Homo sapiens: one gene and its partners. Changing the gene in region 6 together with the main gene of any one other region gives a genetic interaction. Each region holds a gene or a part of one and is shown on either strand. Other genes may lie near its edges.

Evidence for each region.
Region 1: changes in CHEK1 (region 6) and DHFR are lethal when combined (synthetic lethality), as found in Homo sapiens cells (one large-scale study listed by BioGRID).
Region 2: changes in CHEK1 (region 6) and CDC73 are lethal when combined (synthetic lethality), as found in Homo sapiens cells (one large-scale study listed by BioGRID).
Region 3: changes in CHEK1 (region 6) and RFC1 are lethal when combined (synthetic lethality), as found in Homo sapiens cells (one large-scale study listed by BioGRID).
Region 4: changes in CHEK1 (region 6) and TOP2A are lethal when combined (synthetic lethality), as found in Homo sapiens cells (one large-scale study listed by BioGRID).
Region 5: changes in CHEK1 (region 6) and SMARCA4 together harm fitness more than expected from each alone (negative genetic interaction), as found in Homo sapiens cells (one large-scale study listed by BioGRID).
Region 7: changes in CHEK1 (region 6) and VEGFA together harm fitness more than expected from each alone (negative genetic interaction), as found in Homo sapiens cells (one large-scale study listed by BioGRID).

The regions. Positions count from the first base shown.
Region 1 is NC_000005.10:80,634,484-80,637,983, reverse strand, and holds part of DHFR (dihydrofolate reductase), read left to right. Parts: coding exon 1-101; intron 102-3,500.
Region 2 is NC_000001.11:193,146,031-193,149,530, reverse strand, and holds part of CDC73 (parafibromin), read right to left. Parts: intron 1,665-3,500; coding exon 1,566-1,664; intron 1-1,565.
Region 3 is NC_000004.12:39,307,363-39,310,862, reverse strand, and holds part of RFC1 (replication factor C subunit 1), read left to right. Parts: intron 1-1,830; coding exon 1,831-2,227; intron 2,228-3,500. UniProt on the Homo sapiens protein: Subunit of the replication factor C (RFC) complex which acts during elongation of primed DNA templates by DNA polymerases delta and epsilon, and is necessary for ATP-dependent loading of proliferating cell nuclear antigen (PCNA) onto primed DNA.
Region 4 is NC_000017.11:40,393,897-40,397,396, forward strand, and holds part of TOP2A (DNA topoisomerase 2-alpha), read right to left. Parts: intron 2,570-3,500; coding exon 2,387-2,569; intron 1,644-2,386; coding exon 1,553-1,643; intron 1-1,552. UniProt on the Homo sapiens protein: Key decatenating enzyme that alters DNA topology by binding to two double-stranded DNA molecules, generating a double-stranded break in one of the strands, passing the intact strand through the broken strand, and religating the broken strand.
Region 5 is NC_000019.10:11,027,030-11,030,529, forward strand, and holds part of SMARCA4 (SWI/SNF-related matrix-associated actin-dependent regulator of chromatin subfamily A member 4), read left to right. Parts: intron 1-754; coding exon 755-921; intron 922-3,500. UniProt on the Homo sapiens protein: ATPase involved in transcriptional activation and repression of select genes by chromatin remodeling (alteration of DNA-nucleosome topology).
Region 6 is NC_000011.10:125,645,663-125,649,162, reverse strand, and holds part of CHEK1 (serine/threonine-protein kinase Chk1), read right to left. Parts: intron 1-3,500. UniProt on the Homo sapiens protein: Serine/threonine-protein kinase which is required for checkpoint-mediated cell cycle arrest and activation of DNA repair in response to the presence of DNA damage or unreplicated DNA.
Region 7 is NC_000006.12:43,780,211-43,783,598, forward strand, and holds part of VEGFA (vascular endothelial growth factor A, long form), read left to right. Parts: intron 1-521; coding exon 522-593; coding exon of another isoform or gene 594-644; intron 645-1,745; coding exon 1,746-1,877; intron 1,878-3,388.

The DNA of each region.
Region 1 (3,500 bases), on a different chromosome or scaffold from region 6:
TTTCCAGAAGTCTAGATGATGCCTTAAAACTTACTGAACAACCAGAATTAGCAAATAAAGTAGACATGGTCTGGATAGTTGGTGGCAGTTCTGTTTATAAGGTAAGTGTAGTTGTTGGTAAATAAAAACAAATGTTCTGTTCTACTTTCAGCTTCCTTGCCATTTAAAGGAAGTGGAAGAAACAGGTATAACTCATTGTCTGAACCTTTAAAAAATTAAGCCATGCGTATAGGAAGCAGCACATTATCTGTACTGTAAATTATTTGTTGTTAGTTGAAATTATTTGTTGTTTGATACTATACAAACTAAATAGAAATGCAAAAATAAATATTTTAGTCTGTATCAGCCTTTTTTATTTATTCATTTATTTTTGAGACAGGGTCTTGCTTTGTCACCCAGGCTAGTGTGCAGTGGCACTGTCTCACTGTAGCCTCGAGCTCCAAGGCCCAAGCAATCCTCCCACCTTTCCTCCCAAGTAGCTGGGATTATAGGCACACACCATCGTGCCCGGCTAATTTTTGTATATTTTGTAGAGTCAGGATTTTGCCATGTTGCCCAGGCCGGTCTTGAACTCCTGGGTTCAGGCAATTCACCTCCCAATGTGCTGGGATTACAGGTGTGAACCACCACACCCAGCCTATTTATCTTTTTAATTGGCAAATAATTGCATATATATATATATATATATATATATATATTATGTACAACATGTTGTTTTGAAATGTGTATACATTGTAGAATGGCTAAATGGAGCTAATTAACATGTATTACCCACTTATTTTGTGTGGTAAGAACACTTAAAGTCTACTCTCTTAGCAATTTTCAAGAATACATTTGTTATTAACTAAAATAATAGATGTTGTACAATAGATCTCTTGAACTTACTCCTCCTATGTAACTGAAATTTTGTATCCTGTGACCAACATCTCCCCAATACCAATCTACTTTCAAATCAAAGAATAATTGATGTTTCCAATTTAAAATCCATTCTAAATCTTTTCCTGAGAATTGTACTTGCATTGCACTGGTTTCTACTCCCTGAATGTACCCTAGATACACTGAGTTATGCCTTTGTCTTTCAGGATGAATATATCTCTTACTGAGAAAGGGTTGGGGCTCTCAGTTGATATACACTAACTAGATGTATATGAATTTATTACAAGTAGAAAACTTCTTCAACCAATTTTTTTTTGTTTTGTTTTTGTTTTTTTGAGATGGAGTCTCACTCTGTCAAGACTCAGTCGCCCAGGCTGGAGTGCAGTGACACGATCTTCGGCTCACTGCAAGCTCCACCTGCCAGATTGACGCCATTCTCCTGCCTCAGCCTCCTGAGTAGCTGGGACTACAGGCGCATGCCACCACACCTGGCTAATTTTTTTGTATTTTTAGTAGAGACGGGGTTTCACTGTGTTAGCCAGGATGGTCTCAATCTCCTGACCTGCTGATCCACGCACCTCGGCCTCCCAAAGTGTTGGGATTACAGGCGTGACCCACTGCGCCCGGCCAATATACCTCTTTTTTAATACCAAATGACTTCCAGCTTTAAAATTTTTGAGGATAACAAATAGAATTCTTTGCCTTTTAAAACACCAATGAAAAATTAACATTTATGAGGAGGAAGAAAAATCTAGTTTCTGCCATGTGGGTGGTCTTGTGGTAAGATATATACAGTGAAATTATTTTAGAAAGAAGAGGTAGGCCGACGCCTGTAATCCCAGCACTTTGGGAGGCCAAGGCGGGTGGATTGCTTGAGGTCAGGATCTAAAAACCAGCTGGGCCAAGATGGTGAAACTCCATCTCTCCTAAAAATACAAAAATTAGTTGTGTGTGGGCGCGGGCCCCTGTAGTCCCAGCTACTTGGGAGGCTGAGGTGGGAAAATCACTTGAACATGGGGGGCAGAGGTTGCAGTAAGCTGAGATCGTGCCACTGCACTCCAGCCTGGGTAACAGAGTGAGACTCTGTCTCAAAAAAAAAAAAAAAAAAAAAAAAAACTCTCAGTTTCTTGGGCTCCTGTTTCTAGAACCTCTTATGTTCCCCATTTGTAATAGAAGAAAAGGGACATTTTTTCTTGATATTTTTATCCAAGTATGAATTTCTTCTAAGAAAACAAGTTATTTATTTTGTTCAGTGCCTACCACACTTTGAATGATTCATTACCATAGTCACTTGAAAATGTATTCTTTAAGCAATATAAGTACGTAAATGCCTTTATATAATATGATAAATCTACATATAGATAAATAGGAAGTAGAACCTTCGAATGGTATTTTTACACCTGCCTCACATCACAACAGCTTGTAGATATCATTCAGGCTTATCTTCCTATGGGCCAAATCGGACCTCCCAGCCTGTTTTTGTAAAGAAAGTTTCAGTGGAACACAGACCCACCCATTCATTCAGTTCTGTCTGTGGCCTGCAAAGGTAGGAAACCCTATGGCCCTCAGAGCCTAAAATATTTACCATCACTCCTTTTACAGAAGGTTTGCCTTGTATAATCAACTTTTTTTTTCTTTTTTTTTGAGACGGAGTTTCGCTCTTTTTGCCCAGGCTGGAGCGCAATGGTGCAGTCTTGGCTCACCGCAACCTCCGCCTCCCGGGTTCAAGTGATTCTCCTGCCTCAGCCTCCCAAGTAGCTGGGATTACAGGCATGCGCCACCACGCCCAGCTAATTTTGTATTTTAAGTAGAGATGGAGTTTCTCCATGTTGGTCGGGCTGGTCTCAAACTCCTGACTTCAGGTGATCCACCTGCCTCGGCCTCCCAAAGTGCTGGGATTACAGACGTAAGCCACTGCAGCCGACTTATAATCAACTTTAATGCAGAACTTCACCACCACAGTCAATCTAATAATCCAGACAGCTCCTAAGTGACTAAGGGGCAGGTAACATAGACAGCATGTGCAGGACAAAGGGATAATTCACGCCCTAGGCAGGACAGAGCAGAATGGCTCAAGATTTCTTCACACTACTTAGAACAGCATGTCATTTAAATCTTATGAATTATTTCTGGAATTTTCCAGTTAATATTTTCAGACCACAGTTGACCATAGATAACAAACTGGAAAGTGAAACTGCAGATAAGGGGGGAGTCTGCATTCCACTTTTTAAATTTTTGGTACAGTAAGAATTAGTAGAGCATCTATTTGGTTGTAGCAAAGATAATAAATGATTTAATATAAAATGATATATTGAAAATAAAAAGTGAAATTTGTTCTGTACCCTTATTTGGAATTTTAAAAATAAACACTTGGATTTGTTGTGTGTGTGTGTGTGTGTGTGTATTTTTCTTTTCTATAAACTATTTGAGATCAAGAATTACTGCTTTGTTAGAATTGCAATTAAGACATACTTTTTATGAATGAGAATTTTAATACACTCATTCTAGGGCAACTTTTTCTGTAGAAATTATCAACCATATTTTAGGCAGTAGTTAGAAAAGTCATGTACAATATAAAGCCAAATGTTAATACAATTGTTAGCACCAAGAAGCAGAAAAATTAC
Region 2 (3,500 bases), on a different chromosome or scaffold from region 6:
ACAGAAAGAATAATCAGTCACAAATGGTAAAACTGTTTTAAGGTTTGACATGTTTCCTATCAACAGCTATTCAAAATGTCAACAAATTCATAATTCTAAGTACCTTGTGCTTTGCCATCATAGCTCTTACTCCACTACTTTAAAAAAAAAAAAACATCTAATAAGTAGGGAACTGCTGAGAGATCTAGGTTACATGGTCGTTTGAGAATCTAACTAAACCCTGAGGATCTGAGGTGGAACAGTTTCATTCCAAAAACCTCCCCCTGGTCCATGAAAAAACTGTCTTCTACGAAACTGGTCCCTGGTGCCAAAAAGGTTGGGGACTGCTGTATTAGACTATAAGCTCAAAGAAAGTAGGGACTATAATCTTTCTCACTATTGTATCTCAAGATCATTAGCAGACTTCCTAATAGAAGGCACTTAAGTACTTGATGGAGAGTCAACTAAAAGTATTTATCTAATTATCAACAAAAGCCTACCATCTTTAAAAGTTAAATTCCAACAATTTCATGAGCAAATAAAACTACTACAAAGTAGTTGCAAAGGCTGTATTAGTACTCTAATACATTTCAATGTGCCTTTTAAAACTTGAAACAGAGTTTTAAAAATATAGAAGGTTTTCTGGAAGGCCGAGGTGGGCAGATCACCTGAGGTCAGAAGTTCAAGACCGGCCTGGTCTTGAACAGGACGAAACCCCATCTCTACTAAAAATACAAAAATTAGCTGGGTGGGGTGGCATGCGCCTGTAATCCTGGCTACTTGGGAGGCTGAGGCAGAAGAATCGCTTGAACCCAGGAGGCGGAGGTTGCAGTGAGCCAAGATCGTGCCACTGACTCCAGCCTGGGCAACAGAGTGAGACTGTCTCAAAAAAAAAAAAAAAAAAAAAAAAAATTATAAATTTTCTATTTATAGAATCTTCTATTTTCTATTGCAGAAAATAGAAACAATTTCATTTGTATGTTTTATTCCTTTGTTGAATCATATGAAAATAGCTGGAAGGATTTTCAACAAAATTAGAGGATGTTTGAATTTAAATATAGGCTATATGTCATACGTGAAATTTACTTTGGGAGGGTCTTAAGTGGCACTTCAAAGAGAAGGCAGTCAACTCTCAGAGCAGCTGAAATGGAGGTACAATTAAAGGACAGCATGGCTGGTGATCAAGAGAAATACATTCACCAAGATGTAATAGATACAATGCCAAAAAGAACCCCAAACTGGGAGTTAACAGGGATTTATGTTATTAACAATGGTTAGCAATTGTCCCAAGCAACAATGAGTAGGCCAGCCACAGTTTACCTAAAATAAATAGAGGGCTTTCCCTAATTAACCTTTTTCAGACTCTGACCCAGGTATATTAAGAATTACTGCTCCAGTTAAGAATTACTGCTGAAGTAAGTAACTTTTAATGTTGGGGAGGGCTTTCACATCTTTCAGATATGCTAAAGGAGCAAAAGGTTTAGAATCCACTGATTTTAAAATGTGAAGATGTCTTCAACGTTACTACACTGCAATATAAGTGGCAACTTCATTAAATCTACTGTAAAGCAGTAAAGCATTCTTACCACAGGTGCTGCATTTGGGGCAGGTCGCTGTTCAGGTGCACGCCCTTCTTCTCTGGCTTTTACAGATTGAAGAATTGCAAAAATGTTCTTGGAAAAATTCTAAAATATAAATGGATTTTAATTAAGCCCACTTTAAATATACAATAGTAAATTTAGTTGATAATTTAAGACTAAGTTATCTTACTATCGATTCTTCCCTACTACATATGTCATAAGGTATCATTATTATACACATATGTAAAAACCAACCACTACTAAGATATTGATCCAGAGACTGATTATTGTAAATCCCATGGTATTCATTTCATCATTTTCATTTTACTTAAACTGCTACATTCGGGAGGCCAAGGCAGGCAGATCACGAGGTCAGGAGATGGAGACCACCCTGGCTAACACAGGTGAAACCCCGTCTCTACTAAAAATACAAAAAATTGGCTGGGCGTGGTGGCAGGTGCCTGTAGTCCCAGCTACTCGGGAGGCTGAGGCAGGAATATGGTGTGAACACGGGAGGCGGAGTTTGCAGTGAGCCAAGATCATGCCACTGCACTCCAGCCTGGGCAATAGAACGAGACTCCATCTCAAAAAAAAAAAAGAAAAAAAAAACTGCTACAAATGTATTCATATTCTGCATCTGTTCAAATATATAACCAGAAAGCAAGTTAAAATCTAAATAAGGCCGGGCACGGTGGCTCGTGACTGTAATCCCAGCACTTTGGGAGGCAGAGGCAGGTGGATCATGAGGTCAGGAGATTGAGGCCATTCTGGCTAATACGGTGAAATCCCGTCTCTACCAAAACTACAAAAAATTAGCTGGGCGTGGTGGTGGACACCTATAGTGTCAGCTACTTGGGAGGCTGAGGCAGGAGAATGGCGTGAATCCAGCAGGTGGAGCTTGCAGTGAGCCGTGATAGCGCCACTGCACTCCACCCTGGGAGACAGAGCAAGAATCCGTCTAAAAAAAAAAATCTAAATAAAATATAAATACATTTGTCAAAAGAGGCTTCTAGTTCAGAAAAAAAAATAATCAACTACTACATCCTCCTGTTAAACTCCAGTGCTAATTTCAGATTGCTACATATGAGTTTTGAGATACTATCAGAAGTCAATGTACACTTTTCAAAGATGTGTAAGTTGGAAAGTACAAGTACAAATGCTCTTCAACTCACAATGCAATTACATGCTGATCAAAAGTCAACACAGCTAACTAATCTGACGACTCTTTCCTTCATGAAATATTCTTCCTTCATGCTATGGATTGAATGTCTCCTCTAAAACCCATGTTGAAATTTTATTCCATTCTAATAGTATTAGGAGGTGGAGCCTTTAGGAGGTGATTAGGTAGGTCATAGGGCTCCACCCTTACGAATGGATTAATGTTGTTATTGCAAAAGTGGGCTCGGATTCCCGAAAGAGTAAGTTTGGCCCCATTTCTCTCTGTGTCTCATTTGCTTGCTTGCTTGCTTGCTTGCTTGCTTGCTTGCTTGCTTGCTTCTGCCTTCTGCCATGAAATGACCCTCACCAGATGCCACTGCTATGCTCTTGGATTTCCCAGCCTACAGAAATATGAGAAATAAATTTCTTGTCTTCATAAATTACCCAGTCTGTGATATCCACAGCAGCACAAAACAGACAAAGATACTTGGCCTCTGAGATGCTACTCTCTCTTGGTTTTACCCCTAATGTCTGACAGTTCCTTTGGGGCTCTTCTTATGCTGCCTATCAATCACTTAACATTTGAAGGAATATGTAGTAAGAATCTACTCTAAGCCAAACACCTTGCTTGGCACTTGGGTACAATGATGATCAAAAAAGACATGGTCGCTGCCCTCATGAACCTCAAATACAACATAATTTCTCTTCTTTAAACAAGGCATTCTGTTTCCTTGGCTGGGACCACTCTTCCCACCTTACCCCTCTCACCTCCCTCACTAGTTT
Region 3 (3,500 bases), on a different chromosome or scaffold from region 6:
GCCATATTCTCACGTTGACTTTATGCAAAGGTTATTGTTTAAGAGTTCCTTAAAGGATATTTTAATAGGTATTAGCATGATAAATTTGTTTTCAATTAGAACTGTATTAGGACTTTTTAAATTGTGCAGACACCTAGCCTGTATTAGCTTTTGCAAAAGGAAAAATGTTGGCTCACATAACTAAACTATGGGCAGGGAGGGTCTGGTCTAGGAACTATTGGATCCACAGACTACAAAGCTGTGAGGACCCCTTCAGTTTCTGTCTCTCTGTTTCTACTAGTTAGCCTCATTCATTCCCACTGTAGACCATCTTTTTTTACACACAGGACACAGGATTGCCAGCATTCCAAGATTTTAATGTCCCCAGCTCTGTCACCCAAATGGCAAGATGGTCCATCCAGGTTATTCCGGTTAGAGAAATCTAGGGAATGATTTCGATTACATAACCATAGCATAGTTATAAAAACCAGGAAATTAACATTGATGCCGTATTGTTAACTAACCTGTACATATTTTTCGAACCTTACATTTTTCCCTGTAGTTCTTCTGTTCCAGGGTCCCACACTGCATTTAGTTGTGTCTTCTTAGTCTTCTCCCGTCGATGACATTTCTTCAGTCTTTCCTTGTCTTCTTACAACCTTGACACTTTTAATGAGTACTGGTCAGTTTTGTGGAATGTCTCTCAGTTTGGATCTGTGATGTTTTCTCATGATTAGGTTGAGGTTATGCCTTTTTTCTAAGAACACCATGGATGTGATCTTGTGTCCTCAGTGCATCCTATCATAGATACAGGATGTCAATAACGTCTTATTATTAGTGAGGATAATCTTGATTATTTGGTTAAGATGATTCAGCATCCCACTGAAACTAGTGCTGGGTTCCTTCACTAGTAAAGTGACTATTTTTTCCTTTGTAATCGATAACTGTCTTGGCAGGAGAAGGAGGTACTTATGCTTATATCCTGTTTGTCCTTAAACATTCATCCACTAATTTTAGCATCCACTGCTAAAGAGGCACTAATTTTTTTAAAAACTGAGATATTACATACTATAAAATCCACCCTTATAAAGTATACAAATCAGTGGTTTTTAGTATATTAACAAGAGTATACAACCATTAGCACTGTGTAATTCCAGAACATTTTCCTCACCCTGAAAAGAAACCCTGTACCTATCAGCAGCCACTCATTCTATCCACCCCGTGGCACTCACTGCTCTGCTCTGTCTCTATGGATTTTCCTATGCTGGACGTTTCACGTGTGTATGGAGACATTAGAATATATGGCCTTTTGTGTCTGGCTTCTTCCACTTAGCATAGTGGTTTCAAGGTTGACCTGGGTTGTAGCATGTATCAGTGCTTCAGTCCTTGTTAGGGGTAAATAATATTTCATTGTGTGGACACATCCTATTTTGTTTCTTTTTCAGTTGATGGACATTTGGATTGTTTCCATCTTTTAGCTATAATGTGGTTATGAACATTTGTGTACAAGTTTTTGTCGAGGCATTAACTTTTAATTAGGAAACTTTGAAACAAAAATCTCAACACTGTACCTTGTTTTTTTCAAACTAAAATTGGAGTACTTATTACTTTTAAAAATCAACGTGTTGTCACTTTTAGAAATTGCATTTGGTGGTTTCTGGTGTGTTTGTTAATTTTTATAGTTTAGAAGGTGGTGATTTCCACAAACAGGAAAGTCTGTTGTGAAAAGACCAGCCCAGGTTGAGTAGCCCACTTGGATATCTCTGATTGCTCTCTGTAGTACGTTTAGCAGGATAGAAATTCTGTATGTTTCATCAGGTTTCTTTTTTCCTCATTTTTCCACTTCTTAAGATGAAGAAAGAGTCCAAACTGGAGAGAACACCCCAAAAAAATGTCCAAGGAAAAAGAAAAATTAGTCCATCTAAAAAGGAATCAGAATCTAAAAAGAGCAGGCCGACTTCCAAAAGGGACAGTTTGGCAAAGACAATAAAAAAGGAAACAGATGTGTTTTGGAAAAGCCTGGATTTCAAGGAGCAGGTGGCTGAGGAGACAAGTGGTGACAGCAAGGCTAGGAATTTGGCTGATGACAGCAGTGAAAACAAAGTGGAAAATTTGCTCTGGGTGGATAAATATAAGCCAACCTCGCTCAAGACCATAATTGGACAGCAAGGTGACCAGAGCTGTGCCAACAAACTCCTACGCTGGCTCCGAAACTGGCAAAAGAGTTCTTCCGAAGATAAAAAACACGGTGATTTTACAACCTCACTCATTTTTGTGTGTGTGTATATCAACATGTGATTGCTCAGTGGCACATATATGAGAAAATCTAACGATTCATTCATCTGTCAGCAAGCATTTATTAAGAGCTTGATCTGAACCCAGGTGCAGTACTAGACCCTGCTGGTGGTGTTGTGAACAAAACAGTCCCTCTCAGGAGCTCACAGGCAGTGGGGGAGGCATATCTGAACCAGCCATTAAAATATATTTGCCAAGTACTGCTAGAGGGGTAAGTCCAGGGTGCTGTGAGGATGAAGATGTGTGGTCAGGGCCAGGGTGTGTGTGCTCCCATCCCAGAGGAAGGGATGGCTAAGCTAAGACTTGGAAACAAAGTAGGAGCTAGCTAGGTGAAGGGAGGGAGAGATGAGTGTTGGGTAGGAAAGAGTATGTGTCCCAAGGTCTGAAGCCATGTGACAGCAAGACCCCTGAGTGGCAAGGGCACTAGGAGGAAAGCTGTGAATAAATAACAGAGGCATGCGTGCAGGGCAGTCAGCCTAAACTCCCAGTAGCAAGCACGATTTGCTGTGGCAGGCCCGATAGGCCTGTGCTTCTGTAGTTTCTGTCCTTGTTTATGATGTATTATTTGTCGTGGAGAGTGAAAAGCTCCAATATGTATTTAATGTCCAAAGTATTTTCTTAACTGAGCTTTGAGATCACAAATGTTTTAGTAGTGTTTTCAACATAGACCAGTGATGACTAGATTGCCAATCATCATTGCCAATGATGCCTGTTTATTTATAAAAATAATATATTGTAATGATACAGGACTAAATTTAAGTTAAATCACTTTTTTCATTCTGAAACTTCATAAAATCTCCCTTAAAAGAGGAGACAGGCATTTCATGTGCCTGGAGAAGACTGTTTTTTTTTTGTTTTGTTTTGTTTTGTTTTGAGACAGAGTCTTGCTCTGTTGCCCAGGCTGGAGTGCAGTGGTGCGATCTTGGCTCACTGCAACCTCTGCTTCCTGGGTTCAGGTGATTCTTCTGTCTCAGCCTCCTGAGCAGCTGAGACTACAGGTGCACACCACCATGCCTGGCTAATTTTTTGTAGTTTTAGTAGAGATGGGATTTCACCATGCTGGCCAGGCTGGTCTTGAACTCCTGACCTTGTGCTCTACCCGCCTTGGCCTCCCCAGGTGCTGAGATTACAGGCGTGAGCCACCGCACCCAGCCAAGAAGACTGTTTTAAAGCTTCGGGTGAACTCTAGTCCCTGTCTTCATGCCCGCTGGCAGTAGGTTGAAAAC
Region 4 (3,500 bases), on a different chromosome or scaffold from region 6:
AATACAAAAATTATTTGGGCATGGTGGTGCGTGCCTGTAATCCCAGCTCCTCGGGAGGCTGAGGCAGGAGAATTGCCTGAACCTAGCAGGCGGAGGTTGCAGTGAGCCGAGATCTCACTACTACTGCATACTGCATGCCAGCCTGGGCGACAGAGCGAAACTCTGCCTCAAAAAAAAAAAAAAAAAAAGAATGAAGTACTAATATATGGGCTGCCACATGGGTTACCCTTGAAAATGTGTTAAGTAAAGAAGTCAGCTCCAAAAGACCACATATTATATGATTTAATTTATAGGAAATGCCCCTAGATTTTTTAGTGGTCACCCAGTGGAGAGGAGTTGGTGGCAAATGGCAAATGATTGTTAATGAGTTCAGTTTTCTTGGGGGGCAATAAATTGTATTAAAACTGTTTGTCTATACTAAAACCACTGAATGGCATACTTTATTTTTATTTTTGAGTTGGAGTCTTGCTCTGTCACCCAGGCTGGAGTGCAATGGCACAGTCTTGGCTCTCTGCAACCTCTGCCTCCTGGGTTCAAGCGACACTCGTGCCTCAGCCTCTCGAGTAGCTGGGACTACAGGCACGCACCACCACACTCAACTAATTTTTGTATTTTTAGTAGAGATGGGGTTTCACCATGTTGGCCAGGGTGGTCTTGAACTCCTGACCTCAAGTGATCCGCCAGCCTCAGCCTCCCAAAGTGCTGGGATTACAGGCATAAGCCATGGCGCCCAGCCAAATGGTATACGTTAAATGGGCAAATTTGGCATGTGAATATCTCAATAAAGATGTTTCAAAAAAAGTAGACAGTAAAGGCATTATCAAATGATTAACAGAATTATTAATTCTATTTAGTTCATTGAGTGGACATTATTTATATCCGAAGCATGATGTTGAACTCTAGAGATACTACAAACATTACTAATATGTAGTCACTTTTCTTAAGAAACTTTGTATACTAGAACCTCGTAAGTGGCTAGAAAATGAAATCTAATAAACTGGGTATTTTCTTAGATCCCAATTAAGGAATTCAAATTAACAAACTACTTCATTACAAAATATTTTCTATAATGAATCAAATCCCAAGGACGATATTAAAGAGGTCCAGGCCAGGGGCAGTGGCTCACGCCTGTAATCCCAGCACTTTGGGAGGCCAAGGCGGGCAAATCACAAGGTCAGGAGTTTGAGACCAGCCTGACTAACATGGTGAAACCCCGTCTCTACTAAAAATACAAAAAGCAGCCAGGCGTGGTGGCATGCACCTATAATCCCAGCTACTCAGGAAGCTGAGGCAGGAGAATCGCTTGAACCCAGGAGGTGAAGATTGCAGTGAGCCGAGATTGTGCTATTGCACTCCAGCCTGGGCAACAAGAGTGAAACTGTCTCAAAAAAAAAAAAAAAAAAAAAAAGAGGTCCAAGTAGAATTGAGATACAGTCCTCTTTCACGTTTCTCAATTCAACAAAAAGGTTTTGAACATCTATGTGGAATGTACTAGGTAACAAACACAATTTAATCTTCACTTTATACCATTTTTCTAAAAATGTTGTAATACCTGGTTCTCTTTTCTGTTTCTTTTCTAATCTTTGTTTTAGGCCTTCTAGTTCCACACCATCTTCTTGAGGGCTTCCTTCAGTATTTTCATTCTAAAAGATAGCAAAGTTAGGGTTGGATATAGAATAAATTCTGAACTATGGGATTAGAGATTTTATACATTTTTGGCTGGGAGCGGTGGCTCACGCCTGTAATCCCAGCACTTTGGGAGGCCGTGGTGGGCAGATCTCTTGAGGTCAGGAGTTCGAGACCAGCCTGGCCAAGATGGTGAAACCCCATCTCTACTAAAAATACAAAAATTAGCTGGGTGTGGTGATGTGCCCCCAACTACTTGGGAGGCTGAGGCACGAGAATCGCTTGAATACGGGAGGCGGAGGTTGCTGTGAGCTGAGATCCTGCCATTGCACTCCAGCCTGGGTAACACAGCGAGACTCCATCTCAACAACAACAACAAAAAAATTTTATACATTTTTTTTTCAATTTTAAGTGGACATATGCATCAATATTTTATGCATAATATTTTTAAGAGTATTACCTCTTTTTTTTTTTTGAGATGGAGTTTTGCTCTGTTGGCCAGGCTGGAGTGCAGTGGTGTGACCTTGGCTCACTGCAACCTCTGCCTCCCGGGTTCAAGCGATTCTTCTGCCTCAGTCTCCCGAGTAGCTGGGATTACAGGCGCCTGCCACCATGCCCGCCTAATTTTTTTAATTTTTAGTAGAGACAGGGTTTCAACCATGTTGGGAGGCTGGTCTTGAACCACTGACCTCAAGTGATCCACCCACCTTGGCCCCCAAAGTGCTGGGATTATAGGTGTGAGCCACCACAAGAGTATTACCTTAATTTTCTTTTTATTTTTCTTTTCTGCCTCTGCTTTCATTTCTATGGTTATTCGTGGAATGACTCTTTGACCACGCGGAGAAGGCAAAACTTCAGCCATTTGTGTTTTTTTCCCCTTGGCCTTCCCCCCTTTCCCAGGAAGTCCGACTTGTTCATCTTGTTTTTCCTTGGCTTCAACAGCCTACAGAAGGGATATAAGAAAGCAAGTTTAAATGTTAACAAAAACATTACAATATCTAAACACCCAACAGTTAAACTGATTTCATTTTGTTACATCTTAAAAACTAGTGATAAATTGCTCCATAACCTAGTATACTATCAACAATAGTGAAGATGTAATTAAAACACACCTTGAAAAGGAAGGTGTGGAGACAGAAGGACTGGGTTTTATTCCTGATTCTACCACTTAACCTTTTTGAGGAAAACAAGGGAGAAACTAAAAATAAAACATGTATATACATATATATTTGTAAACTCACATACAAAATATGAAAGGAAGTGATGCACACTTATCCAACCAACTGATTACAATGAGCTAGGCATCTATACTGAAGTGCAGTAATACAAATTTGCATGTTAAATTTAAGAAATAAAGCTTTTGGTGGTTTTTTTTTTGTTTTTTTTTTTTTAAGAGACACGCAGGCTGAGTACAATGGTACATGATCATAGTTCACTGCAGCCTTGAACTCCTGGTCTCAAGTGATCCTCCCACCTTGGCCTCCGGAGTAGCTGAGACTATAGGCCCACACCACCATGCCTGGCTATTTAAAAAAAACATTTTGTAGAGATGAGGTCTTGCTACGTTACCCAAGCTGGTTTTGAACTCCTAATCTCAAGTGATCCTCCTGCCTCAGCCTCCCAAAGCACATTGGGATTACAGGTGTGAGCCACAGTGCTGGCCTTTTTTCTTATGTTAAAATAATGTTGAGAAACAAATGTTATTAGGAAGATTTAAGTAACAAATAACCTTCTGAAACCATCTGGATAGCCCTGCTTTCTCCTTTTTTTTTTTTTTTTTTTAGATGGAGTCTTGCTCTGTCACCCAGGCTGGAGTACAGTGGCGCAATCTCGGCTCACTGCAACTTCTGCCTTCTGGGTTCAAGCAATTTTCT
Region 5 (3,500 bases), on a different chromosome or scaffold from region 6:
TTTAAGCCCCTAATGGATGTGGATGCTGTGTCTAGATTTTCACCATTGCAAAGAACCTTGCTAAAAGCATTCTTCCAGCTAAAGCCTCCATTCAATTCCCCTGGGGTAGTAAGCCATTTGCAAGAAGAGAGGCGCCTAATGAAAACATCACAAATTCTTTTTGATGTGTTTTTTTATACTGAGTTGTGGAACAGGGTCCTGTACACCTGGCTTCAAGGCTGGGAGGCCTGGCTTGGACATGTGGTCAGCCATATCACGTCGTCCCCCTGCCAGCCTCAGTGTCCACATCTACAACACTTGGGGTTTGGCTGGAGAGAACATGAGAAGCCGAGGTGGCCCTTCCTTCTGGGTCTAGCAGAGCATGGGTGTCTCCAGTGTGGCATTTGCTCCTGGGGCTTCTTTATCGGGCAAGGGGACAAGGTCTGGCTTCCCGGAGCATCCCTGTTCCAGCCCCGTGTTGTGCCGGCCATGTGACTCACAGCTCCTCTCATTTTCATGAGTGTCTGGGTTTGACGAGAAATACATGTGCCACCCTGGTGATACGCCTCCCCAGCGAGGGTGGCCGGGCTTATTTCAGTTGGGGGAAATGGCTTTGCTGAAGCTTTGGGTGGGTGACGTCTGCTTAGGATGCATGTCTGTGCCCTTGAACCCGGCGCCTGGCCTGGAGGCGGGCGATGCACCTCCTGCCTTACCTGCCTGCAGGGTTCCAGGTTTAACATCCTGCGCCTTCTCTCCTGCCTCCTCCACACTCCAGGCTGGACCTGTACCGAGCCTCGGGTAAATTTGAGCTTCTTGATAGAATTCTTCCCAAACTCCGAGCAACCAACCACAAAGTGCTGCTGTTCTGCCAAATGACCTCCCTCATGACCATCATGGAAGATTACTTTGCGTATCGCGGCTTTAAATACCTCAGGCTTGATGGTGAGTATGAGCCAGTGAGGCGTTTCTTACAGGGTTTTGTTGTTGTGGCTGCCACAGAAGCTCCTCACTGGCATTCCCTCCTGTGAGGCAGGGTGAGGCCCAGGCGCTCTGGGTCCAGTGGCCAGAGTGGGCCTAGCCACAGGCTGAGCATCTTGGGCACTCGGCACTGGGACAGGCCGTGGATTGGACGCCGGGTGTCCTGACTCCTAGGCTGACAGTCTTTCCACGACAATGCTGGGCGCACTGGGGAAGGGGTGCCCTGTGCACTTTTAGCTGGAAGTGACAGAATTCCATACCATGTGGACACAGGAAAGAAAGCACCAATAGGCTTACATAGCTCTAACCCCAGGAGGTTAAACATCCTTCAGGCACAGCTGGATCCAGGCATGCAGGTGATATTGGAGAGACTTTTCTCCAGCTCTTTGCTCTGCCTTCTTCCATCTTGGCTTCCTTTCCACCTGCTCAGTGTCCCCAACAAAGGCAGGTCCCAGGCTGGCTCTCATTTAGCTGCTGTGAGCCGCATGCCCATCCCTGGGCCATTCGTAGCAGCCCAGTGACTGCCACCTTGCCACAGGTCAGGCCTGGACCTGGAATCAGACTCTGTGGTGAGCACGGAGGGAGGGAAGCAAGCACTGCCAGGCAGGAGCAGCAGCTGCCGTAGAGAGGCTCTCAGCCCAACCCCCTGCCCTGCGGTCCCTGATGGGAAAGGTCACCGCCTGTGTTTCTGCGCCTGCCTGCCCCAGCACACGGGAGCTCAGGGAGGAGAGGCTGTGAGATGCCGACAGGGCACGTGAGACATGTCTGTCAGTCCCAGTGGGTCAGGGAGCCCTGGAGTGAGTTCTTCGTGGGAGTTACTAGAACTGGGCTTACGAGAAACACGAGCATGAGCTGCTGAGACAGACACGGCTCAGCCAGTTTGTTGTTCCCTACACGACCTCCCAGAGCCTTTGTTGAAGCTCCTGTGCAAGGTCTGTCTCACAGCAGGACACCCCAGACCTCCATACCCCTTGTCCCGTTGATCACTTGGACCTGTGTTTGCTGGGCCAACCTGCCCAGGTGCCACCCGGAGTGTGCCCTGTGTGTCCCTCCAAACTGCAGGTCCTCCCCGGGGTTCTGTCCAGGACCACTCTACAGACACGAGTCTGTTGCAGGGGTCTCCCCGGCTTGCCTTCTTCCTTGGGGGCTTCCCACTTTCAGCTTTGAGGCTGAAAACCAAAATCCTTCAGGGTCCTCATGGCCGGGCCACCCCCCACCCTTTCCTCTCCTACGGTCTCTCCAGCGGCTTCTCCCGTCCTCGAGAGGGCCAAGGCTTCCTGAGGGCCATCCCGTCTGTGTCGTGTCCCTGACTCCCCCAGGAGAGAGCCTGGTTCCCACCCATCCCAGTGCCCTTCTGCCTACTCCATAAGGACAAGGACTTTGGTCAGTTGAACTACAGATGTGTCCTCTGCATGTGATGTGGTCATGGCCACAGGGCCAGAGAATCCATTGCGAGTAGAGGAAGGGTAGGAGCTCAGTGAAGTCTCCTGAGACTGCATCTCCCATGGGTGGGCTGGCATCTGGGAGCCGGGTGGCCCCTCACCTCAGCCCCTCCTCCGAGCTGGAGTAGCAGGGGCACATCTGGTGCCTGAGAGAGGGTGGGACGGCAGGTGGATGGCCAGGCTACTGTGGGCTTCTGCACCGTGCCTGGGCATGTGTAGGCTGGTGGCAGGAAATGGCCAGTTTTTATTTCTTCTTTTTTTTGAGACGGAGTTTCACTCTTGTTGCCCAGGCTGGAGTGCAGTGGCATGATCTCAGCTCACTGCAACCTCCGCCGCCTGGATTCAAGCGATTCTCCTGCCTCATCCTCCCTGGTATCTGGGATTACAGGCGCCCGCCACTACGCCCAGCTAATTTTCTTGTATTTTTAGTAGAGACGGGGTTTCACCATGTTGGCCAGGCTGGTCTCGAACTCCTGTCCTCAGGCGATCCACCCACCTCAGCCTCCCAAAGTGTTGGGATTACAGGCATGAGTCACCGCGCCCGGCCTGCCAGTTTTTATTTCATCACCAAAATGACTTCAGTGTTCAGGGGCACCTCTGTCCGAACTCCCAGCAGCGCAGGGAGTGTTGACATTGCCTTAATGCCCACAACGCTGAGGGCATCGTGGGTTGTCACCCAGGAGACCTGCTCTGGCTCCTTGACTTGGGTTTTCTGGGGCATGGGGACACTGATCCTGCCAGAAAGGACACGAGCCCCCTTTATAAGGTCTCCATGCTTTTACCGTAGAAGATTCTCTTTGTGAACCACAAAACTTTTTGAGACAGGGCTGAAGGCAGGTGCACCCACAGTCACTGTCCACCCACCCCCAGGTCCCTTGTGTTGCGAGCGGCGGTGTTGCCGGCATTGGCCGCTGTGTCTTCCGCTCCCCATGGAATGGCACAGGGTAGAGTAGAGGAGAGAATCCAGGGCTGTGGTGGTGGTGGCTGTGCTGACGCTGGACGCTGTGGCCTAGCTGTGGGCTGGGTGCTGGACTCTGTGCTCCAGGCCCACCTCCTCTAGTTCTCCCAGCGGGGCCTGTTTTCATTTCTGGGATGTGTGGA
Region 6 (3,500 bases):
GCTGATGTGGATATACTAACATTAGACAAAATAAACAGACTGATGAAAACTGTCAATTTAGCTGGGCATGGTGGTGCACACCTGTAGTACCCACTACTCAGGAGGATCACTTGAGCCCAGAAGGTCAAGGCCAGCCTGGTAAACACAGAGACTGCATCTCTACAAAAACATTTTTAAAAAGTTAGCTGGGTATGATAGTGTACACCTGTAGTCCCAGCTACTTAGGAGGCTGAGATGAGAGGATCACTTGGGCACAGGAGGTCAAGCTATATTAATAAAGGGAAAAAAAATCCACATGATTATCTCAATAGACGGAGAAAACATTTGACAAAATCCAATACTCTTTCACCATAAAAACAAAAACCCCACAGCTAACATCATACTTAATGCTGAAAGACTCGAAACTTAACCCTAAGATCAAGAACAAGACAAAGACTCTATTTCTGTTCAACATAATGTTGGAAGTCCTAGCCAGGACAACTAAACAAAAAGAATTAAAAGGCATCTGGGTTAAAAAAAAAAAAAAAAGTAAAACAATTTCCTGTATCTCTATTGATAAACAATGTAATTTTTTTTTTTTTGAGACGGAGTCTTGATCTGTCGCCCAGGCTGGAGTGCAGTGGCGTCATCTCGGCTCACTGCAACCTCCGCCTCCCAGGTTCAAGTGATTCTCCGGCCTCAGCCTCCCGAGTAGCTGGGATTACCGGTGCCCGCAACCACGCCCAGCTAATTTTTTGTATTTTTAGTAGAGACGGGGTTTCACTATGTGGGCCAGGCAGGTCTCAAACGCTTGACCTCATGATCCACCCGCAACGGCCTCCCAAAGTGCTGGGATTACAGGCGTGAGCCACCACGCCCTGCCAAATAATGTAATCTTAATATATTAAAAAACCTAAAGAATTTGTCAAAAAAACTACTGGAGTTAATGAATTCAGCAAATTTTCAGGATACAAGATCAATATACAAAATTCATTTGCATATAGCAATGAACAATTTGAAAATAAAATTTTAAAAAATTCCATTTACATCAGCATCAGGATAAAAAAAAAAAGAATAAACAGGATTACATTTAACCTAGGAAGTGCAAGACTTGAACACTGAAAACTACAAAATATTCTTGAAAGAAATTAAAGACCCTAAAAAAATGGGAAAAAAAAGGCCCCATGTTATTGGATTAGAAGAGTTACTATTAGAGGTTTAGCATCCTTAATCTCAAATCTGAAATCCAAAATGTTCCAAACTCCAAAACTTTTCAGGTGCTGACATCATGTGACAAACTGAAAATTTCATACCTGACAGGTTTGCTTTCTGATAGTTCAATGTACAAACTTTGTTTCATGCACAAAATTATTTAAAACATTGTATAAAATTACCTTCAGGCTATCTGTATCAGGTATATATGAAGCATAAATAAAATTATTCATGTTTCAACTTGAGTCCCATCTGTAAGTTATCTCAATATGCATATGCAAATATTCCAAAATCCAAACAAATGTAAAATCCACAAAACTTTTGGTCCCAAGCACCTTGAATAAAGAATACTCAATATATACTAAAATGGAAATACTCCCCAATGTAATCTCTTTTAAAATTCCAAATTTTTTTCTTGCAGAAATAAGATAATCCTAAAAGACAGAAAAACAAGGGGCCACAAATAACCAAAATACCTTGAAAAAAAGAACAAACTTGGACAACTCATATTTTCTAATGTCAAAATTCACTATAAAGCTACAGTAATCAACATAGTGTGGTAACGGCATAGCACAGACATATAGATCCATGAAATAAAAGAATTGAGTCCACAGGGGAAGAAAAAAAAAAGGAAAAAAAAAGAATTGAGATTCCAGAAATAAACCCATACATCTATGACCTATTTATTTTCAACAAAGGTGCCAAGACCATCTAATAGTAAAACATATCTTCAACAAATGGTGCTGGAATCTGAATATTCACATACAAACATTTGAATTTGCACCCTACATCATACTATATACAAATATTAACTCAAAATGGACAAAGACCTAAATATAAGAGCTAAACTTTAAGACTGTAGTCCCCGCTACTTAGGAGGCTGGGACTCCTAAAAGAAAGCATAAAGTATAAATCTTTACAATCTTACATCAGGCAACAGTTTCTTAAATTTGACACTAAAAGCATAGGCAACAAAAGAGAAATTATAGATCCACTGGAATTCATCAAAATCTAAAACTTGAGTACATCAAACGACACTAACAAGAAAACAAAAGAATGGGGGAATTTTCTCCCACAGAATGGGATAAAATATTTGCAAATCAGGTACCTGACAAGGTTCTAGTGTCCAGAATGTAAAAGAACTCTAACAACTCAACAATAAAAACAAGCCAGTTAAAGCATGGACAAAATATCCGGATACTGTTATAAAGAAATGGCCAATAAGCATATAAGAATATGCTCAAGATCATTAGTCTTTAGAGAGATGAAAATCAAAAGCAAAATGAGATAAGACTTCATACACACTAGGATGGCCATAGCAAAAAGGGGAGGCAGTAAGTGTTGGCAAGGTTGTAGAGAAATTGGAACCCTCTTACATTACTGATGGGAACGTAAAATGGTACAGGTGCTTTGGAAAAATCATTTCACAGTTTCTCAAAAAGTTAAATGAAGAGTTACCATATGCTCCAACAATTCTATTCCTCCATATATATCTAAGAAATTGAAAACATATGGTCACACAAAAACTGGTACAAGATTGTTCACAGCAGTATTATTCATAATGATGAAAAAGTAGAAACAACCCAAATGTCCATGAGTGGATGAATGGATAAACGAAATGTAATACATACACACAACAGAATATTATTCAGCCATAAAAAGGAATAAAGTACTGATAGATGCTATGAACCTTGAAAACGTGCTAAATGAAAGCAGACAGACCCAAAGGACTACATGTTATATGATTCCATTTATATAAAATGTCCAAAAAGGCAATCCCTAAAGACAGAAAGTAGATTCGAGGTTGTCTGGGAATGGAGCAAGAAAGGAATAAAGAGTGATTCTAGGTGGTACAGAGGTGTTTTGTTTTTTTTTCCCCGTGGTGATGCAATGTTCTGGAATTAGGGGCGATGGTTGCACAACCTTGTGAATATACTAAAAAGCACTGCATTTTACATTTTAAAATGGTTAAAGTGATGATTCTTATGTTATGCAAATTTTATCTCTGAGTCTACCTGAAAGAAAGTGAATCACCTATGTGAGTGAGAAGACTATCAGGCTGACCTCAGATTTCTACACAGTAACAGTTCCCCCAATTTTTAATTTTGAAAACTCGAATCTACAGAAAAACTGAAAAAAGAGTATAATAAATAACCATATACTCTTCATTGGCCTTATCTACCAGATATGTGTGTGTTTATTGGCCTTTATGTAGTTGTTTGCCCTTTATTTTTTTAAATTTTAAGCTGAATGAAAATATCACTTCACTTCAACTTTGCTTTGACACTTGTTCTCCTTTGAACAAGGGC
Region 7 (3,388 bases), on a different chromosome or scaffold from region 6:
GCAGTTGCAAATGAAGGCACAAGGCCTGATACACAGCCCTCCCTCCCACTCCTGCTCCCCATCCAGGCAGGTCTCTGACCTTCTCCCCAAAGTCTGGCCTACCTTTTATCACCCCCGGACCTTCAGGGTCAGACTTGGACAGGGCTGCTGGGCAAAGAGCCTTCCCTCAGGCTTTGCCCCCTGCCGGGGACTGGGAGCCACTGTGAGTGTGGAGACCTTTGGGTCCTGTGCCCTCCACCCAGTCTCGGCTTCCCACCAAAGCCTTGTCAGGGGCTGGGTTTGCCATCCCATGGTGGGCAGCGTGAGGAGAAGAAAGAGCCATCGAGTGCTTGCTGCCCAGACACGCCTGTGTGCGCCCGCGCATGCCTCCCCAGAGACCACCTGCCTCCTGACACTTCCTCCGGGAAGCGGCCCTGTGTGGCTTTGCTTTGGTCGTTCCCCCATCCCTGCCCACCTTACCACTTCTTTTACTCCCCCCACCGCCCCCGCTCTCTCTCTGTCTCTGTTTTTTTATTTTCCAGAAAATCAGTTCGAGGAAAGGGAAAGGGGCAAAAACGAAAGCGCAAGAAATCCCGGTATAAGTCCTGGAGCGTGTACGTTGGTGCCCGCTGCTGTCTAATGCCCTGGAGCCTCCCTGGCCCCCAGTACAACCTCCGCCTGCCATTCCCTGTAACCCTGCCTCCCTCCCCTGGTCCTTCCCTGGCTCTCATCCTCCTGGCCCGTGTCTCTCTCTCACTCTCTCACTCCACTAATTGGCACCAACGGGTAGATTTGGTGGTGGCATTGCTGGTCCAGGGTTGGGGTGAATGGGGGTGCCGACTTGGCCTGGAGGATTAAGGGAGGGGACCCTGGCTTGGCTGGGCACCGATTTTCTCTCACCCACTGGGCACTGGTGGCGGGCCCATGTTGGCACAGGTGCCTGCTCACCCAACTGGTTTCCATTGCTCTAGGCTTCTGCACTCGTCTGGAAGCTGAGGGTGGTGGGGAGGGCAGACATGGCCCAAGAAGGGCTGTGAATGACTGGAGGCAGCTTGCTGAATGACTCCTTGGCTGAAGGAGGAGCTTGGGTGGGATCAGACACCATGTGGCGGCCTCCCTTCATCTGGTGGAAGTGCCCTGGCTCCTCACGGAGGTGGGGCCTCTGGAGGGGAGCCCCCTATTCCGGCCCAACCCATGGCACCCACAGAGGCCTCCTTGCAGGGCAGCCTCTTCCTCTGGGTCGGAGGCTGTGGTGGGCCCTGCCCTGGGCCCTCTGGCCACCAGCGGCCTGGCCTGGGGACACCGCCTCCGGGCTTAGCCTCCCATCACACCCTACTTTAGCCCACCTTGGTGGAAGGGCCTGGACATGAGCCTTGCACGGGGAGAAGGTGGCCCCTGATTGCCATCCCCAGCAGGTGAAGAGTCAAGGCGTGCTCCGATGGGGGCAACAGCAGTTGGGTCCCTGTGGCCTGAGACTCACCCTTGTCTCCCAGAGACACAGCATTGCCCCTTATGGCAGCCTCTCCCTGCACTCTCTGCCCGTCTGTGCCCGCCTCTTCCTGCGGCAGGTGTCCTAGCCAGTGCTGCCTCTTTCCGCCGCTCTCTCTGTCTTTTGCTGTAGCGCTCGGATCCTTCCAGGGCCTGGGGGCTGACCGGCTGGGTGGGGGTGCAGCTGCGGACATGTTAGGGGGTGTTGCATGGTGATTTTTTTTCTCTCTCTCTGCTGATGCTCTAGCTTAGATGTCTTTCCTTTTGCCTTTTTGCAGTCCCTGTGGGCCTTGCTCAGAGCGGAGAAAGCATTTGTTTGTACAAGATCCGCAGACGTGTAAATGTTCCTGCAAAAACACAGACTCGCGTTGCAAGGCGAGGCAGCTTGAGTTAAACGAACGTACTTGCAGGTTGGTTCCCAGAGGGCAAGCAAGTCAGAGAGGGGCATCACACAGAGATGGGGAGAGAGAGAGAGAAAGAGAGTGAGCGAGCGAGCGAGCGGGAGAGCGCCTGAGAGGGGCCAGCTGCTTGCTCAGTTTCTAGCTGCCTGCCTGGTGACTGCTGCCTTCTCTGCTTTTAAGGCCCCTGTGGTGGGCTGCAGGCACTGGTCCAGCCTGGCGGGGCCTGTTCCGAGGTTGCCCTGGTTGCCTGAGTGGTAGGCTGGTGTGGCTTAGTGTAGTGGTGTGGACGCAAGCTGTGTGTTGTGTCCTGTGGTCCTTCTGCTCATAGTGGCTGTTGGTCCTGATGTTATTACTACCTCTGGTAGTAATGCTGAGAAGCTGAAAGCCGATTCCAGGTGTGGACAATGTCAACAAAGCACAGATGCTCTCGCTGGGGCCTTGCCTCGGCCCTTTGAAGTCTGCATGGCTGGGCTTCTCACTCACTCAGTGTTTCTTGCTGGGGGAAGGAATTGAGTCTCCCACTTCAGACTGGGCCTCCCTGAGGAAAGGGTTGTGTCTCCCCACTCAGACTGAGGTTCCCTGAGGGTAGGGCTGTGTCTCTCCCCTCCGACCTGGGCTCCCTGATAGGGCTGTCTCCCCGCTCAGACTGAGGCTCCCTCAGGCCAGGGCTATGTCTCCCTCCTCAGACTGGGGCTCTGAGGGCAAGGGGTCTGGCTGTTCGTTTAGGATGGGGCACTTTTGCCTACACACTGAAGGAGCTGTAGCATCCAAGAATACTAGATACCTTTAATCCTCCACCAGTCATGGTGACAACCCCAAGCAGCCCACACATTTTCAAGTGCCCCCAGGATGCGTGGAGGGAGGGGTCTGTGCCCATTCTCCTGACATTAGCCTGTGAGCTCCGTAAGCCCGGGCCTCGTTTACGTACCTTTGTGAGCCCCGGGCATCTGTACCTCTTTCCTTTGCCCATACTGGGGACCAAGGAAGTGTCAAGTGCATGAGTGAATGTGTGACTCAGTTCAGAGGGTGAGGTCAGGAGCACAGGGTCGGGACAGGTGGCTGGCATCTTTTAATGCCTTAGCTTATGTTCTTTATACCAACTTGGCCTGTGCTCAGAGTGAGGGAGGCCCTGGGGGTCAGGGTAAGCGTCAGTCAGGGAGGCAAGACTTTGTGGGGATTTCCTAGACAGGGCCAAGGCACCCCCAGCTCACCCCGAGGCTGTGTTAGGGAAGTCCTTGGAGTGTCTCCCCTCCCCCAGCAATGTTCTTGTGGCTTGTGTGTGCTCAGGGGATGCTGGGAACCAGGCCTGGGTAGTTGGTGTGGGGTGCTGTCTGTCTTGGCCCTATGTGAAACCAAGAGGGCGTATATTAGTGCTGGGGTGGGGGCTCTGCCTAACTTCAGGGCTGGATGAGGGGAGTCTCAGTTCCCCAGGGGTCCTTGGGAAAGATAAGGGACTTGACATTTTAGGGTTTTTAGGTGATTATTCTGCTGATGGGGGTTTGTGTGAAGTGACCTGGGAG